4 linked regions of the Homo sapiens genome follow. The protein of the gene in region 3 purifies or fractionates together with the protein of the main gene of each other region. This does not show direct contact. Each region holds a gene or a part of one and is shown on either strand. Other genes may lie near its edges.

What was found. Proteins that work in one complex are often made in the same cells at the same time.
Region 1: the proteins of MGME1 (region 3) and SFXN5 purify together in Homo sapiens (co-immunoprecipitation; one large-scale study listed by IntAct). This does not show direct contact.
Region 2: the proteins of MGME1 (region 3) and THNSL1 purify together in Homo sapiens (affinity purification with mass spectrometry; 2 studies listed by BioGRID and IntAct, with this or other methods). This does not show direct contact.
Region 4: the proteins of MGME1 (region 3) and LUZP1 purify together in Homo sapiens (affinity purification with mass spectrometry; 2 studies listed by BioGRID and IntAct, with this or other methods). This does not show direct contact.

What each region holds. Positions count from the first base shown.
Region 1 is NC_000002.12:72,942,713-72,946,714, reverse strand, and holds part of SFXN5 (sideroflexin-5), read left to right. Parts: intron 1-1,615; coding exon 1,616-1,693; 3' UTR 1,694-4,002. UniProt on the Homo sapiens protein: Mitochondrial amino-acid transporter. Transports citrate. Does not act as a serine transporter: not able to mediate transport of serine into mitochondria.
Region 2 is NC_000010.11:25,019,110-25,023,111, forward strand, and holds part of THNSL1 (threonine synthase-like 1), read left to right. Parts: intron 1-2,632; 5' UTR 2,633-2,799; intron 2,800-4,002.
Region 3 is NC_000020.11:17,985,517-17,989,323, forward strand, and holds part of MGME1 (mitochondrial genome maintenance exonuclease 1 isoform 2 precursor), read left to right. Parts: intron 1-2,649; coding exon 2,650-2,782; intron 2,783-3,807. UniProt on the Homo sapiens protein: Metal-dependent single-stranded DNA (ssDNA) exonuclease involved in mitochondrial genome maintenance. Has preference for 5'-3' exonuclease activity but is also capable of endonuclease activity on linear substrates.
Region 4 is NC_000001.11:23,158,857-23,162,858, reverse strand, and holds part of LUZP1 (leucine zipper protein 1), read left to right. Parts: intron 1-4,002.

The sequences.
Region 1 (4,002 bases), on a different chromosome or scaffold from region 3:
CAGAGTCTTTGGGCAGAGCACCACTGGATGGCGGCGTCATTCCCGAGATGGAGAGCTGAGTGGGGCCAGGGGAGAGGGCAGGTTCAGTTCCATTTCAGGTGGGTTGAGTTCAGGCGCCTGTGAGACATCCACAGCAAAGTTTGGCAGGCAGGCGGCTGTGAACCTGAGGCTCCAGGGAGAAACAAGGCTGCAGAAATCTTGTGTGGGGGTAACCCAGGGCATGTGCAGAGAAGAGGGCCCAGCCAGACCAAGCCCCAAGGACCCCGAGGAGCATGCAGTGGGTGTCGTGAAGTGGGGGGTGGCAGTGACCTTGGAGAGAAAGATTTTTCTGGAGTGTGGTGAGAACAGAAGCCAGATTTACTGTGGGTTGAAAAGTCAGTGGGAGGGAAGGAGGTGGACACAGCCAGTGTAGACCAAGTTTTTTAAAGAAACGTGGCTGCTGGGGAGGAGAGAGACCAGGTAGTAGCTGGGCCTGCCTTGGGATGAAGGGGAGGTGTCATCAGAGAAGGTTCCTGCATGTGGAACACTAACGGGCAAAGGTGGGAGAGAGGGAGGATGACCCAGGAGGGGGCCCCGGAGTGGGCAGGGGAGGTGGAGCCAGGTGGGGTCCTGTCCTGCGAGGGGAGGGATGGCAGCTGTGGGGTGGGAGGAGGGCAGGTGGAAAGCCATGCATGGACACGGAAGGCAGCGGGTTTGATGATGGGAAGCTGAGGGTTTCGCCTCTGACACCTTCAGCTTTTTCCCTAAATAAGAGGAAGTGTCACCTGCCCAGGATGCGTGGGAGCAGGGGGTGGGTGGCCAAGGAGAGGAGAGCAGAGCAGGTATCCAGTGGCCTCTGGAGAGTGGGCGAGGGAGCTGACCTGGCTATGGGGGCAGGGGTGGGGTGGTTGTCTGCAGTGGTTGGGGGTCCAGCCAAAGTCAAGGACAGGGAATTTTGAGGGTCTCCATTACATGGTCAGGTTCAAGTAGGAGTGGGGTGCATGGTGGGGTTCTCCGAAGCAGGGCTTCTGCCAGCAGCGTGGGAGGGACCCTTGGGCTAGGGAGTAGCTGAAGGGATGGCCCCTGGAATCGGGACTGCAGGGGAAGATGTAAAGACTGAGTGGTCGGAGTGTGGAGTGTGGGCGCTTAGGTCTAGGGGACTGGAAACAGAGAAGCAGGAGTGAGTGGGGTGCTGGAAGGACAGGCGACTGAGGAGCCCAGGAGGGTGGGGTTTGGATGGAAGGAGTTGAGGTGGAGCAGCCCTGGGTGGTCATCAGGTCCAGGGAATGGCCCTGGGCAGGGCTGTGGTAGGTCTGCAGTGCAGTGGACATGGTTCTTGGGGGTGAGGGAGATGCAGAACTCAGAGGCCAGTGTGTAGGATGTCCACCCACGTGGACACACCATCAGAAGAAAGAGATCTGGTCTGGGCTGGAAGGGATGCTGTGAGCCCCGCGGCGGGAGGGCGGTGGAGAAGGAAGATGTGTCACTAGGTAGGGCATGTGAGCCCTGGCTGGGGTGGACACGGGGGTGCAGGGGGCAGAGCTCTGGGGCCCAGGGTGGTCCTCACTGCAGCTCCCAGCCCCACTATTTGCCCCTTCCCACTCCCCCACTTTTCCTCTCTGTTCTCTCTCCACAGATTGAAACATCCCAATTAGAGCCGGAGATAGCCCAGGCCACGAGCAGCCGGACAGTGGTGTACAACAAGGGGTTGTGAGTGTGGTCAGCGGCCTGGGGACGGAGCACTGTGCAGCCGGGGAGCTGAGGGGCAGGGCCGTAGACTCACGGCTGCACCTGCAGGGAGCAGCACGCCAACCCCAGCAGTCCTGGGCCCCCTGGGAGAGTGCTCAACCTACAGTGGAGGGAGACTGACCCATTCACATTTTAACATAGGCAAGAGGAGTTCTAACACATTTCGTACAAAAAAATAATCAAGTGCATTTCTGGGCCTTATGTGGGGTTGTCAAAACTCCACTCAGCACAATTATGTGTGAAGCTGAAAAATTGTAGAGTGCCCATGGGGTAGAAGTAGAATCCTTTTATACTTTGGTTCCTTTTTTATTTTTATTTTTTATCAGAATCAAATCTGAGCCTTAGTTTCAGCTGACCAGAAGTGGCAGGAGGACAGGTGGAGGCGAGCCAGATTAGGCCTGGAGTTGGGCTGGTTTGGTGGCCAGGCTGGTAAATTTAGGATATTACAATGGCCAGCCCAGATGGCTCCCTGGGCTGGCATGGGGAGGGGAGAGAAGGTGGTCTGCACCCCACAGGATGAACTAGCCATGACTAGGGTCCTCAGGCAGTGGCCCAGGGAATCAGGGAGCACTGGAGGCCTCTGCAAGATTCTGTGGGCAGCTGGCTCTGAATGTAGCCAGCCCACATCCATTCCAGAGCTGCAGAACCAGTCCCTCTGAGTGAAGTCCAGTGACCCTGGAGCTAGGGTCCCCCTTCGTGGAGCTCTAACTGATTCAGGGCCCCTGAAGTGACCCCAGCTCCAGGCAGGAAACCCCGAGAAGGAATGGTGCTTGGCAGGAACCATGGACCTGCACTTGGCCTCTTCGGGAAGATCCTCCTTCCAGGCCCCAGGCTGGATGCTGGGTTCTGGGGCTGAGAGTGGGGCTAGACTGGGCTGGCTGCCTTCTGCGGAGCTTCTCCAGCCACCAAGGCTGCCTGCCCCATCCCATCCCTTTCTAAGCAGGAAGGTCTCATGCCTGAGAATGCCTAGGCCAGCTCCTTAGACACCTATCAGAGAAGCAGCATCAACCTAGGAGCAGTGGGCCCTGGCTCTGTCACTAAATGGCAGTGAGATGTCAGACAAATTCATTCCCTTCTCTCAGCCTCCACTCCCTGTCTGAAACCAGAAGACTGGATCAAGGGGTTCCCACTGGCTCCTCCAGCAAGACCTCGTCTTTGCTTGTCCTGCTCAGATGCTGGTCATCCTGGGCATGTCCCCAGTGTGGACTCTGGACTGGGAAGGGGGCAGGCCCCTTTGGACCTGCAGTTGGCCTCAGCAGAAGGCCTTGCCTTGTGTATGTGACTCCATATCCCGGGAGCAGTTGACCTTTGCCAAACACTTTACAGTTCTGGAGGAGGAGGTAACATAGATGCCTGGGCCTGATGGTGGGGCCATACCCATGTGTCGCCTCTCACTCTGGCAGCCTCAGAGGCCCCTTGCTGCTGGCTCCCATCTCCCTCCCATTTGCAGACCAGGAAGGAAGAGCAAGCTGTACAAAGGGAAGCAGAGCCTGGGGTGGGTGTGAGCAGGGTGACCCCTCATCTGAAAGGCCCAAACCAGGGGGAAGCACCAGCCTCAGTGCAGCCCCCTCCTGACCCCACCTAGAATGGAAGCCTCCACCTGCAGCCCCAGGCCTCCCTCCCCCGGGGTCTCCACCTCAGGGGAGACTTAGGCCAGAGGTGAACATTCATGTGTAGGAAGAGGCCGCTGCAGGGTGGCATCTTAGGGTAGGGGAAGTGTGCTGAGGTGGGCCTTCCATGGGCATGGCCGTTGCCTCTCTGCCAGCCGCTGGTGCCCACCAGCTGGCTCTGCAGCACATTGCCCTGAGGGGCCTGCCACTCTCCTGAGGAGCAGCCCACCTGCTGCCCGTGAGGAGGGGGAGAAGGGTTAGACAAGCCTGGAGGACAAAACAGCGGGAGTGTGGGGGTGCCATGGTGTTGGAGGGGCAGGCCTTTTTGAGCCAATCCCACCATAATGTGAATATGCCAGTGACTGCTGCGCTGTGCTGGTCTCTAGGCCTGAACTAGGTGCTGGCATGTCTGGGTCGTCTTTTGAAAAGCTCACTTCAAGCTCACCCTGCTCCTACCTATCATAAGGTCTTATTCTTGTGCACTTTATCTTGGGACCAAAACTGCCTACCCACCCCTTCCCGCCCTCCCCCTGCCAGAGGCCTGGTGCCCTGGCCCAGCCTGTGGCCTCAGCATCTCATAACTCATTTGCTTTGTCTCCCGGATGATTTCCGTCATGCTCCCAAATGCAGCTTCAGGTGAGCCAAGGGGTCTGCTCCTGTGGCG
Region 2 (4,002 bases), on a different chromosome or scaffold from region 3:
ATACACAGTTAGTTCTCCATATCTGTGAATTTCCCATTCTCAGATTCAACTAATTACAGATTGAAAATATTTTAAAATTTTAGTTGGGCACAGTGGCTCATACCTGCAATCCAAGCACTTTTTGAAGGCCAAGGCAGGAAGACTGCTTGAGCCCAGGAGTTGGAGACCAGCCTGGGCAACATGGCGAAACCCCCTCTCTACTAAAAATACTAAAATTAGCTGGGTGTGGTGGTGCGTGCCTTTAGTCCCAGCTACTTGGGAGGCTGAGGTGGGAGGATTGCTTGAGCCTAGGAAGTCAAGGCTGTAGTGAGCCAAGATTGTGCCACTGCACTCCTGCCTGGGCAACAGAGTGGGAGCCTGTCTGAAAAACAAACAAAAACACGAAAATAATGGAACAGTAAAAATACCACAAACAAAAAAGCAAATTAGTACAACAGCTCTGTACCTAGCATTTGCATTGTATTATGTATTATAAGTTATTCAGAGATTAAGGTATACAGGAGGATGTGCACAGGTTATATGCAAATACTACACCATTTTATATAAAGGACTTGCACATCTGCAGATTTTTCTCACTCTAAAGTCAGTCCTATTAACTGCTAATTATCCAATATCCCTCTCAATGCTTAATCCAAATAATTGTTAAACACATGAAAGAGAAGAGTGTCAAGACCAAAAGCCTTGGAGTGCACTACCAGAAATTTCCCTCTATTCAACAGAACCATTTTTATGATCATTCAACAATATCCTCAAATCTTTTTTTTCCATTTCTCCGTGAATTAAAAAAATTTTAAATGAACCATGTGTAATGCTTTGGTGAAGTCCATATATATGCCTTCTATGTATATTCCCGAGTGGCCATTGCAGCAGACGTTCTCAAAAAAGAAATGAGGATGTCTTTTCCTCATTTGGTTGGTTAAAAAATGTTGAGCCCCTAAAATCAATTTGTGGTTAAATGTTACAAAATAAAATTTAGTATGTAGCTTAAAATAGAATATATCTTTATTGTTCTTTAGAAATAATATATATTATAGCACTTAACTGCCTTCTGCTAGTCTAAGGAACATGTTTGTGGGAAATAATATTGATACAGAATTTACAAATTGAACTGTCATAATTTTCTTTAAAATATATCTATATCTATATCTATATCTATATCTATATCTATATATATCTACCCCAAAGTCTTGAAAAAGGGAAGTGAAGTAAAATTTAAAAACAAGAGGGTAGAGGGGAACTAACATATAGGAAAAGTAAGATTGCAAAACATAAGGTGAAGGTAACATAATGTTTCCTTACAATCTACTTTTAATGAAGTTGATGTTAAGCATGGTAGCAAGCAATATAAAGCGGAAGAAAAGATGAAAGATTTACTGGGCCAGTATGGTGGTTCATGCCTCTAATCCCAGCACTTTGGGAGGCCAAAGTGGGAGGATTGCTTGAGTTCAGGAGTTCGAGATCAGTCTGGGCAACATGGTGAAACCCTGTCTCTAGAAAACCTACAAAAATTAGCTGGGTGTGGTGATGCACACCTGGTGGGAGGATCACCTGAGCCCAGGAGGTTGAGGCTGCAGTGAGCTGAGATCATGCCACTGCACTCCAGCCTGGGTGACAGTGGAAGACCCTTTCTCAAAAAAAAAAAAAAAATTACTGCTCATGAAAACCATCTACTCAGATTATATACAATTATTACTAATACAGGTATCAGAAAGTTATGTATTGCAAACTCAAAAAGAAGAAACTGTAATGTTACAAGCAAAAGCTTCCTGAATAGGAGGTTAATCAGACTGTTTTATGTAAGTGCCCTAAAAGCAGTTTGTGCTTTTAAAGTCCAGTACCAGAATATGGTTTAATAAAATAAATTGATGTTATGGTTCAAGTATATAATTCTTTCTGGTCCCTGGTTTACTTCAGGGAAAGGATTAGACTGTGCATGGCAAAACAGTTCTTGATTCGTGGGTGAACACCACGGTATTCTCTGAAGGTTTATAAACCAAACCATAAAAAAAATGCACCCTGCCTTGTACCTACATATTTGGGTTCAATTTATATATTCCTAGCCCACTGTCAGTGAGTGACAATGATTAATCTTACTGTAAATATTTTGTGCTAACCACTATGATATGTGCTTTGATTTTATTATAGACACTTATATAGCTAAGAGGTATCTTTTTGTGGCAAGAGTTTTATTTGGGCTTTTTATAGTGGATATTATTACATATGAATATATAGTGATTTTGATAGATAATATAGCCTAAAAAACAACTCAGACACTAATTTCATAGCTTTAGTCTGCTGACTTTTTCCCCTCTGATCATTATACAGCCAAATCATTAAAATTCCAGATATCCTTCTGAAAAGTTTTATATTTGTTATTATTTGGTTTTTTATTGCTTGATGGTAGAAATTCCTTCAGTACTGTTTAGTGAAATTCTTTTTATAATGAGACACACATGTTTAAAAACAGTATTTTAATCTTCTAATAACAGATTTGGGGAAACATATGAAAAGGGTCAATTTTTCTGTATTTTTAAAATTTCAGATGAGCTTTTCAAATAATAGACTAGTCTATGTGTAGAATTTTATGATACTCTATACAGTTATGATTAACTTAAATTTTTTTCCATTATAGACTCCACGTTTTGCAAAGATCGGTTTTGCCTCAGAGTCAACAAACTCTTCAGATTGGTTCCGGTGTGTCCTATGTTTACAAGTCAGTGGAAATTAAGCACAACACATATAAATTGAAAAGTCAAATAAGGAAATGAATTACCTCCCTTGACGGCTCTAATTTTACTTGTAAGTTAAATTCAGAGTTAGCTTAAAATCATTTAAATGTTTAATTACAGAACAGAGTTTAAGTAGCATAGAAAGTCAGTATTACATGATTAAAAGTTTTCAGAACATATTTTAACATATGATCTAGTATTTAATATGGTTTAGTTGCATATTGCTTCTACCAGAGAACACGTGATAAGCCCCACTATGTGTCTGTGACATTACTTCAGGCAATTTACATGAACATTGCACAGGTATTATACTGCATTTTACGTAACTAAAAACTTGACTTGTCTGGCATACATTTTTGTTTTAATGGTGAGTATATTTCCAAAGACAAGGACTTGGTCAATATGGGAAATTATAGAGCTTCTTTGGATGCCAGAATAATTGTTGTCTCTCATCATTGGAAACATTCCTGAGGTTCTTGGCTGTGGCCCTGGGGTCTGGAAATTGAGTTAAATCTCTCCACTGATGATTATAGGGTTAGAAACAAAAGTGATGGTTCTGTGCAGATAAGGTTATATGTAGCCTTTGACCTCATTGCTGATTATTAATTTTTCTTAACTATTTGTATAATATACCTTTCACCTTGGCTCTTTTTAAAGCCTTCAATATGAATAATATGTAACAATGATTCTTAATATGCGTGTAAAAGGCACATAAGAAAGAAAATGTCATACCTTTGTCCTGTAGTTTGGAAAACTAAGCATTTTATAAGCAAATATGTTCTTTTATTCTGGTTTCCTGTTATGACTTCTATAAGAAATTTATGAGTAATATAGTCTGTCACAATGTTCATATAACTGAAGAGAAATTAAATATAAAGAATATTGTTCAACTTTTGTGAATTGCAAGTAGATAGCACTCCAACTCCAAATCATCTTTATATGTGATATAAACTGATAAACCATGAAATAATTTTCATTAAAAGATCTCAATATGAAAAGAAATAGTAATTTGATTTAGTGTATATATACTTTTAAAAGCATCTACAATCTGGCACTTTGTGAATACAAGTTTCTGTTTTTTATAGTTACAAATTTTGTCAAAGTTTTGATTTTTCAGTGTCTTGAGATTTTAAAAGATATCATTAAAAGGATAATATGCAATATATAAGAATTTGGGTTGGAATACTTTTTTTAATTCCATAAGTTTGGAAGATTTTTAAACAGTTTATGTACCATGGGCATGGTTATATTCAGTCCTATTGGGATTTTAACA
Region 3 (3,807 bases):
TGTAGCGTAAGTGTACAGTGTTTATAAAGTCTATAGTAGTATACAGTAATGTCCCAGGCCCTCACATTCACTCACCGCTCACTCACTCAATCACCCAGAGCAACTTCTAGTCCTGCAAGCTGCATTCGTGGTAGGTGCCCTATACAAGTATACTGTTTTTTATCTTTTATACCACATTTTTACTGTACCTTTTCTGTGTTTAGATGCACTAATGCTTACCATTGTGTTATAGTTGCCAGCAGTATTCAGTACAGTAACATGCTGTACAGGTTTGTAGCCTAGGAGCAAAGGTCTGGGTGTGTAGTAGGCTATCCTACCTAGGTTTGTGTAATATACTCTATGTTTGCACAATGACAAAATTGCCTAACCATGCATTTCTCAGGACATATCCCTGTCATTAAGCTACACATGACTGTACTTTGAAATCAGGCAGTGTGATGCCTCCGACTTCATTCTTTTCACTCAAGATTGCTTTGGCTATTCGGAGTCTTTTGTGGTTCCGTGTTAATTTTAGGATTTTTTTTTTTCTATTTCTGTGAAAAATGATGTTGGAATTTTTTTTTCTTTTTGAGACAGAGTTTCACCCTTGTCGCCCAGGCTGCAGTGCAATGGCACAGTCTCAGCTCACTGCAACTTCTGCCTCCCAGGTTCAAGTAATTCTCCTGCCTCAGCCTCCCGAGTAGCTGGGATTACAGGGGCACATCACCACGCCTGGCTAATTTTTGTATTTTTAGTAGAGACGAGGTTTCACCATGTTGGCCAGGCTGGTCTGGAGCTCCTGACCTCAGGTGATCTGCCCACCTTGGCCTCCCAAAGTGCTGGGATTACAGGTGTAAGCCACCGTGCCCGGCAGAATTTTTTTTTTTTCTTTTTTCCTGAGACAGGGTCTGGCTTTGTTACCCACGCTGTTGTGCAGTGGTGCAATCTCGGCTCACTGCAAACTCCACCTCCTGGGCTCAGCCTCCTGAGTAGCTGGGACAACAGGCTCCAGCCACAACACCTGGCTGATTTTTTGGTATTTTTTATAGAGACAGGGTTTCACCATGTTGCCCAGGCTGGTCTCGGGCTCCTGAGCTCAAGCAGTCCACCTGCCTTGGCCTCCCAAAGTGCTGGAGATTACAGGTGTGAGCCATCACACCTGGCCTGCCATTGGAATTATGATAAAGATTGCGTGGAACCTATAGATTGCTTTGGATAGTATGGACATTTTAACAATATTCTTCCAGTCCATAAACAGAGGATATCTTACCATTTATTTGTATCATTTTCAGTTTCTTTCATCAATATTTTATAGTTTTCAGAATGCTATTAAGGTTTTTTTTTTTACATTTATTAAGTTCTACAATTACAGTACATTGCTGCAAACAGTGTTCTGTGGCAGAAATATAACATGGTGGCTCACACCTGTAATCCCAGCAGTTTGGGAGGCCAAGGCGGGTGGATCACTTGAGGTTAGGAGTTGAAACCAGCCTGGCCAATAGGGCGAAACCCCATCTCTACTAAAAATACAAAAATTAGCTGGGCGAGGTGGCGCACACATGTAATGCCAGCTACTCAGGGGGCTGAGGCAGAAGAATAGCTTGAACCCAGGAGGCGGAGGTTGTGGTAAGCCGAGATTACACCACTGCACTCCAGCCTGAGTGAGACTCCATCTAAAAAAAAAAAAAAAAAAAGAAGAACCAGGAATGGCATCCTAGAGTTACTGGGGCCCTTTTCTCAACTACACAGATTGTCAAACTTGGCAATATTACAAAACAATTCTGAAGACAATAAAATTATCTCTAAACCTAAACTGTCCAGTAGAGTAGCCACTAACCCCTATAGCTATTGAGCATTTGAATGTGGTCAGGCCAAACTAAGGTGTGCTATAGCAATATACAAACTACATTTCAATGACTTTGTACAAAAAAGAATGTAAAATATCCCTATAATAAAAAAAAGACGTAAAATATCCCATTAATCATTTGTTAGTTGATTACATGTTGAAATGATATTTTGGATATGTTGGGTTAAGTAAAATGTTAAAATTTCAGCTGTATTTTTTTTTTCTTTTCCGATGTGGCTACTAGAAAATTTAAAATGACACATGGCTCACATTTTACTTCTTTTAGCCAGTGCTGCTCTAGACTGAGTTTGCATGAGGTGTAACTGTCTAGAGCTATAGTGACATGTAAGTAATATACATGCTTTGTACAAAATCTCCCTATAAACTGCTGATTTTGAAATTGAAGTCATGAAAGACAGATTGAACCGATAGAGTCCTTTGAGAGTCACCAGTTACTGGTCCACTCTCTGTATCCTTTTGATATTTGCATTTGGCAAGTATAAACCCGACCAGGATAGGGGATGGGGGGAGGAATCCACTGGTTATTTGATGCAAAAAAAGAGGGAGAAAAAGTGGGGGGGTGCACTTATAGTCCCAGCTACTTGGGAGGCTGAGGTGGGAGGATCACTTGAGCCCAGGAGTATGCGTTTAGCCTGGGCAACATATGAAACCCCATCTCTTTTTTAAAAAAGGAAAAAAATGGTGAATAAGAGCAATGGTCATTGGCTGACAAGTAACAAACTATACATAAGAGAACTGTTAACCTAGTAGAGATTTTCATTGTGATCTATTACCTACAAAGTCTTCCTGTGGTTTCTCTTTAGGGGCAAGCTCTGTGTGATTGATTGGAAGACATCAGAGAAACCAAAGCCTTTTATTCAAAGTACATTTGACAACCCACTGCAAGTTGTGGCATACATGGGTGCCATGAACCATGATACCAACTACAGCTTTCAGGTCAGGACACTGAGCCTTTACTTAAAGCTTTGCTCAATGCTTACTTAAAACTATAACTCCGGGCCGGGCGCAGTGGCTCATGCCTGTAATCCTAGCACTTTGGGAGGCCAAGGCCGGTGGATCACTTGAGGTCAGGAGTTCAAGACCAGCCTGGCCAATATGGTGAAACCCTGTCTTTACCAAAAATACAAAAACTAGCTGGGCATGGTGGCTCATGCCTGTAATCCCAGCTATTCTAGTAGCTGAGGCAGGAGAATTGCTTGAACCCGCGAGGTGGAGGTTGTAGTGAGCCAAGATTGCGCCACTACACTCCAGCCTGGGCAAGAGAGTGAGACTCCATCTCGAATCTGTCTCAAAAAAAAAAAAAAAAACTTCTCAGTGGGGGGGTAGGAGGAGAAAAATTGTAAAAAAAAAAAAAGTTAAAAAATAGAACTCCTTGAGGTTTTTCCTTTTTTAATCTCTATTTTTATCCCATTGCTTAACGTCTTCCTTGTTCCTTTCCCACTTAAAAAAGCACTTTTTGGCTGGGCACAGTGGCTCACGCACTTTGGGAGGCCGAGGCAGGCAGATTGCTTGTGCTCAGGAGTTTGAGTCCAGCCTGGGCAACATAGTGAAACCCCGTATCTACAAAAAAAATACAAAAATTAGCTGGACATGGTGGCGCACACTTGTGCCAGCTACTTGGGAGGCTGAGGTGGGAGGATTGCTTGAGCCCAGGAAGTGGAGGTTCCAGTGAGCCGAGATTGTACCACTGCACTCTAGCCTGGCCGACAGAGCAAAACCCTGTCTCAAAAATAAATAAATAGGCCAGGTGTGGTGGCCCAAGCCTATAATTCCAGCACTTTGGGAGGCCGAGTTGGGCAGATCACCTGATGTCAGGAGTTCAAGACCAGCTTGGCTGACATGGCGAAACCCTGTCTCTACTAAAAATACAAAAATTAGCTGGGCGTGGTGGTGTGTGCCTCTAGTCCCACCTACTTGGGAGGCTGAGGCAGGAGAATCGCTTGAACCCAGGAGGCGGAGGT
Region 4 (4,002 bases), on a different chromosome or scaffold from region 3:
CATGTGCCCCTTTATACCGTTTGTTTCTTTATTTTTACAAAAAAATTTAAAAATATGGACTGCTTTATGAATTAGCATGTCATCCTTGTGCAGGGCACATACTAATCTTCCCTGTACCATTCCAATTTTAGTATTTGTGTTGTGGAAGTGAGCACTCTATTCCTGTTTTTATCTGGACAAAATAGTATTTTAAAAATGTATTATGGGCTGGGCTAACATGGTGAAACCCCGTGGCTACTAAAAATACAAAAAATTAGCCAGGCATGGTGGCAGGCACCTGTAGTCCCAGCTACTCGGGAGGCTGAGGCAGGAGAATGGCGAGAACCCAGGAGGCAGAGCTTGCAGTGAGCCGAGATCACGCCACTGCACTCCAGCCTGGGCAACAGAGCGAGACTCCGTCTCAAAAAAAAAAAAAATAAAAGTATATTACGTTATTAAAAACTTTATGATTGAAGTATATAATACATATACAGAAAAATGCATGTAAAAGTGGAATTTGATGTTTTTTTCCCACAAACTGAATATACCCATGTAAGCAGCACCTAGATCTAGATCAAGAAACAGCGTTACCAGTACCTAGAAGCCCCTATCCAGTTCCCTTTCAGTTCCTGTCTCCCCTCTACCACCCAGGGTAATCACCATCCTGACTTCTGACAGCATAGATTATTTTGCTCTTTTTTTGTACTTTTGTAAAAATTGAATCATATAGTATATATTGTTTGTGGTCTGGCTCCTTTTATTTAACACTAATGTGACCGTGCAAAAATTTTTAGTGGTTTTTAGATTTGGAATAAAATTCAAATTTCAGCTTTTTTTTTTTTTTTTTTTTTTTTTTGAGACAGTCTCGTTCTGTCGCCCAGGCTGGAGTGCAGTGGCGCGATCTCAGCTCACTGCAACCTCCACCTCCTGGGTTCAAGCCGTTCTCCGCCTCAGCCTCCCAAGTAGCTGGGATTAAAGGTGCCTACCACCACGCCTGGCTAATTTTCGTGTTTTTAGTAGAGACGGAGTTTCACCATGTTATGTTGGCCAGGCTGGCCATGAACTCCTGACCTCTTGATCCACTCACCTCAGCCTCCCAAGGTGCTGGGATTACAGGCGTGAGCCACTGTGCCTGGCCATTTCAGTTCTTTATTTTGACCTATAATGCCCTGTATAGCCCGTCTCCTGGCTACTTTTCGGGTAGGCAATTGGCATTTTATGCCAATCTCATTGCCCATTATGCCTCTGTTACGCTAACTTCTTATTTTTATTCTTATTTTATTTAATTTTTAGAGATGGGGTCTTACAATATTGCTCAGGCTGGTCTCAAACTCCTGGCCTCAAGCTGTCCTTTGGCCTCCAGAGTAGCTGAGATTACAGGCATGAGCCACTGGCCTTATTTATTTTTAAACTCAGTGAGCTGTTTCCTACCTCAGGGCCTTTGTATGCATGGCTCTGTCTTCCTCGAACACTTCTTTTCCCTGCTCTTTGCATGGCTGCCTTCATGCCTGAGCTTATGTATAAATATCAGGGATACTTTTTCTCATCATCGTGTCTTGCTAGTCCTTTCCCATTATTCCCTATTACTGGCTTCTGTTGCCTCCTTTCATAGCACCTATTGCAATTTATGATTATATATCTGCGTGCATGATTATTATGTCTTCCCTGCTAGATTCCATGAAAGCAGAGAACTCATCTGTTTTGTTCTCCAGTGTATCTCTAGTGCCTAACACAGTGACTGACATAGAGTAGGTATTTAATAAATATTTAATGGCCATATTCCCAATTCAGCACCTTTGGTCCCATTATCTTTTGTCCTTTCCTCTTATGCTGTTTAACTATTTAAATCTTTTCCACCCCTCAAGACTGAGCTCAGTTCTCCCTCTTTGAAGTCTATCATGGTTTTGCAACAGTTAATCTTTCTTCTCTAAAATTTTATAGCATTTATTGCCAGTACCACCTTGTGTTCATGGAAAATCACACTATCACATATCTTATTTTACCTAGTTGTATCAAAAGCTTCTTATTTTCTCAGAAATCTTGTAGCTTGTTATGCCAGTACCCCTCATATTTTTGGTTAACTTGACCAGCTTCTATTAATATCTTAATTAGCTAATTTGACTGGAAGCTTCTCGATCAGAAGCTGTTTTAGCTAATGCCCTCCTCAGTTATTTTCACTGGCACATAGTAGGTCTTTAGTAGAGTTTTTGATGACCAATGATATTTATGTATAGGTAGCAATTTTAATTTCTTAAGCTTATTAACTTGGATTCTTTTTATTAGAATCCTGCTTAGTATTTTCTCTAATCTAAAGGCCGGGAGTGCACCAACTGCTTCCGGCGATATAGAGACTATTAGGGTGTGAAAGTACAGGAGTCCAGTCCTAATGCCACAAAGCAGATTCTCCTTTGGAACTTGTCACTGGTGTAGAATTAACTATGCAGAGTTCCTTCTTAGAAAAAATGCTTTATCAGTGCTTGTTTAATGTTCTCAGATTGGAATTACTAACAGAAACAAGACACTAGGTAGTACTTTATTTGAATTTTCTGTTGACTAACATTTTATTTTGATGTCAACAAAGCAAATCTTGAGCCAATTAAATCTGCTTAAAGCTGCTTTGTCTGATGGGTAAGCTCTCTCAGTAGTTACTCTTCCTCTTGTGTTAAAGGCAGAAGAATGTTCTATAAGCCAATTTAAATGCAAATTTAAATTAGTAGCAACTTAGTTGATTTAACTCAGTACATATTTCAAATTAAGTGGTAAATTTAAATTAGTTTTTAGGAGGTACCTACTGTGTATTTTAAATCAGTGATTATTTTGGCTTTTCTGATGAAACTACATCAGAATATTACAGGGTAATGTAGTAATTGGTTTGTTTTTGTTTTTGTTTTTTGAGACGGAATTTTACCCTTGTTGCCCATGCTGGAGTGCAGTGGCGTGATCTTGGCTCACTGCAACCTCCACCTCTTGGGTTCAAGCGATTCTTCTGTCTCAGCCTCCCGAGTAGCTGGAACTACAGGCGCATGCCACCATGCCCAGCTCATTTTTGTATTTTTAGTAGAGACAGGGGTTTCACCATGTTGGCCAGGCTGGTCTCGAACTCCTGACCTCAAGTAATCCGCCTGCCTTGGCTTCCCAAAGTGTTGGGATTACAGGCATGAGCCACCGCGTCTGGCGTGATACTGATATTATTAGCCATTGGCTATGTGACAGGCACTATCCTAAGCATTTTTCATACATTAGTTTATTTACTCATTCACTCAACAAATATTTATTGAGTACCTATCATGTTTCAAGCTCATAATCTCATGTATTCTTCACCACACCCATGAAGTAAGTATATAGTTTATTATTTTAACCCCATTTTACAGATGAGGAACTGGTACACACAGAAGCTAGATATCCAGTGTCACAAGCTGTTGAGGGTCAGATACTGAGGTTTTTTAAAAGAATGCCAGTTAGTGACATCTTTGGCATGAATTAATTCTATGCTAGATTTTTATCTTTGGGAGGGGAGCAGTAATCAAATTTTTTTTTTTGAGACAGAGTCTCGCTCTGTAGCCCAGGCTGGAGTGCAGTGGTGTGATCTCGGCTCACTGCAAGCTCTGCCTCCCGGGTTCACGCCATTCTCCTGCCTCAGCCTCCCGAGTAGCTGGGACTACAGGTGCCCGCCACCACGCCTGGCTAATTTTTTTGTATTTTTAGTAGAGATGGGGTTTCACCATGTTAGCCAGGATGGTCTCAATCTCCTGACCTCGTGATCCGCCCTCCTCAGCCTCCCAAAGTGCTGGGGTTACAGACCTGAGCCACCGTGCCTGGCCAGTAATCAAATTTTGAAGTCTCTGGTAAACTGTAGTCAAAATGATTAGAACAGAATGTGATAAGCTAAACTGAGATTACTTCTTCTCTTACCCCCAACCCATCTCTTTTTTTTTTTTTTTTTGAGATGGAGTCTTGCTCTGTCAGCTCACTGCAACCTCTGTCTCCCGGGTTCAAGGGCTTCTCCTGCCTCAGCCCCCTGAA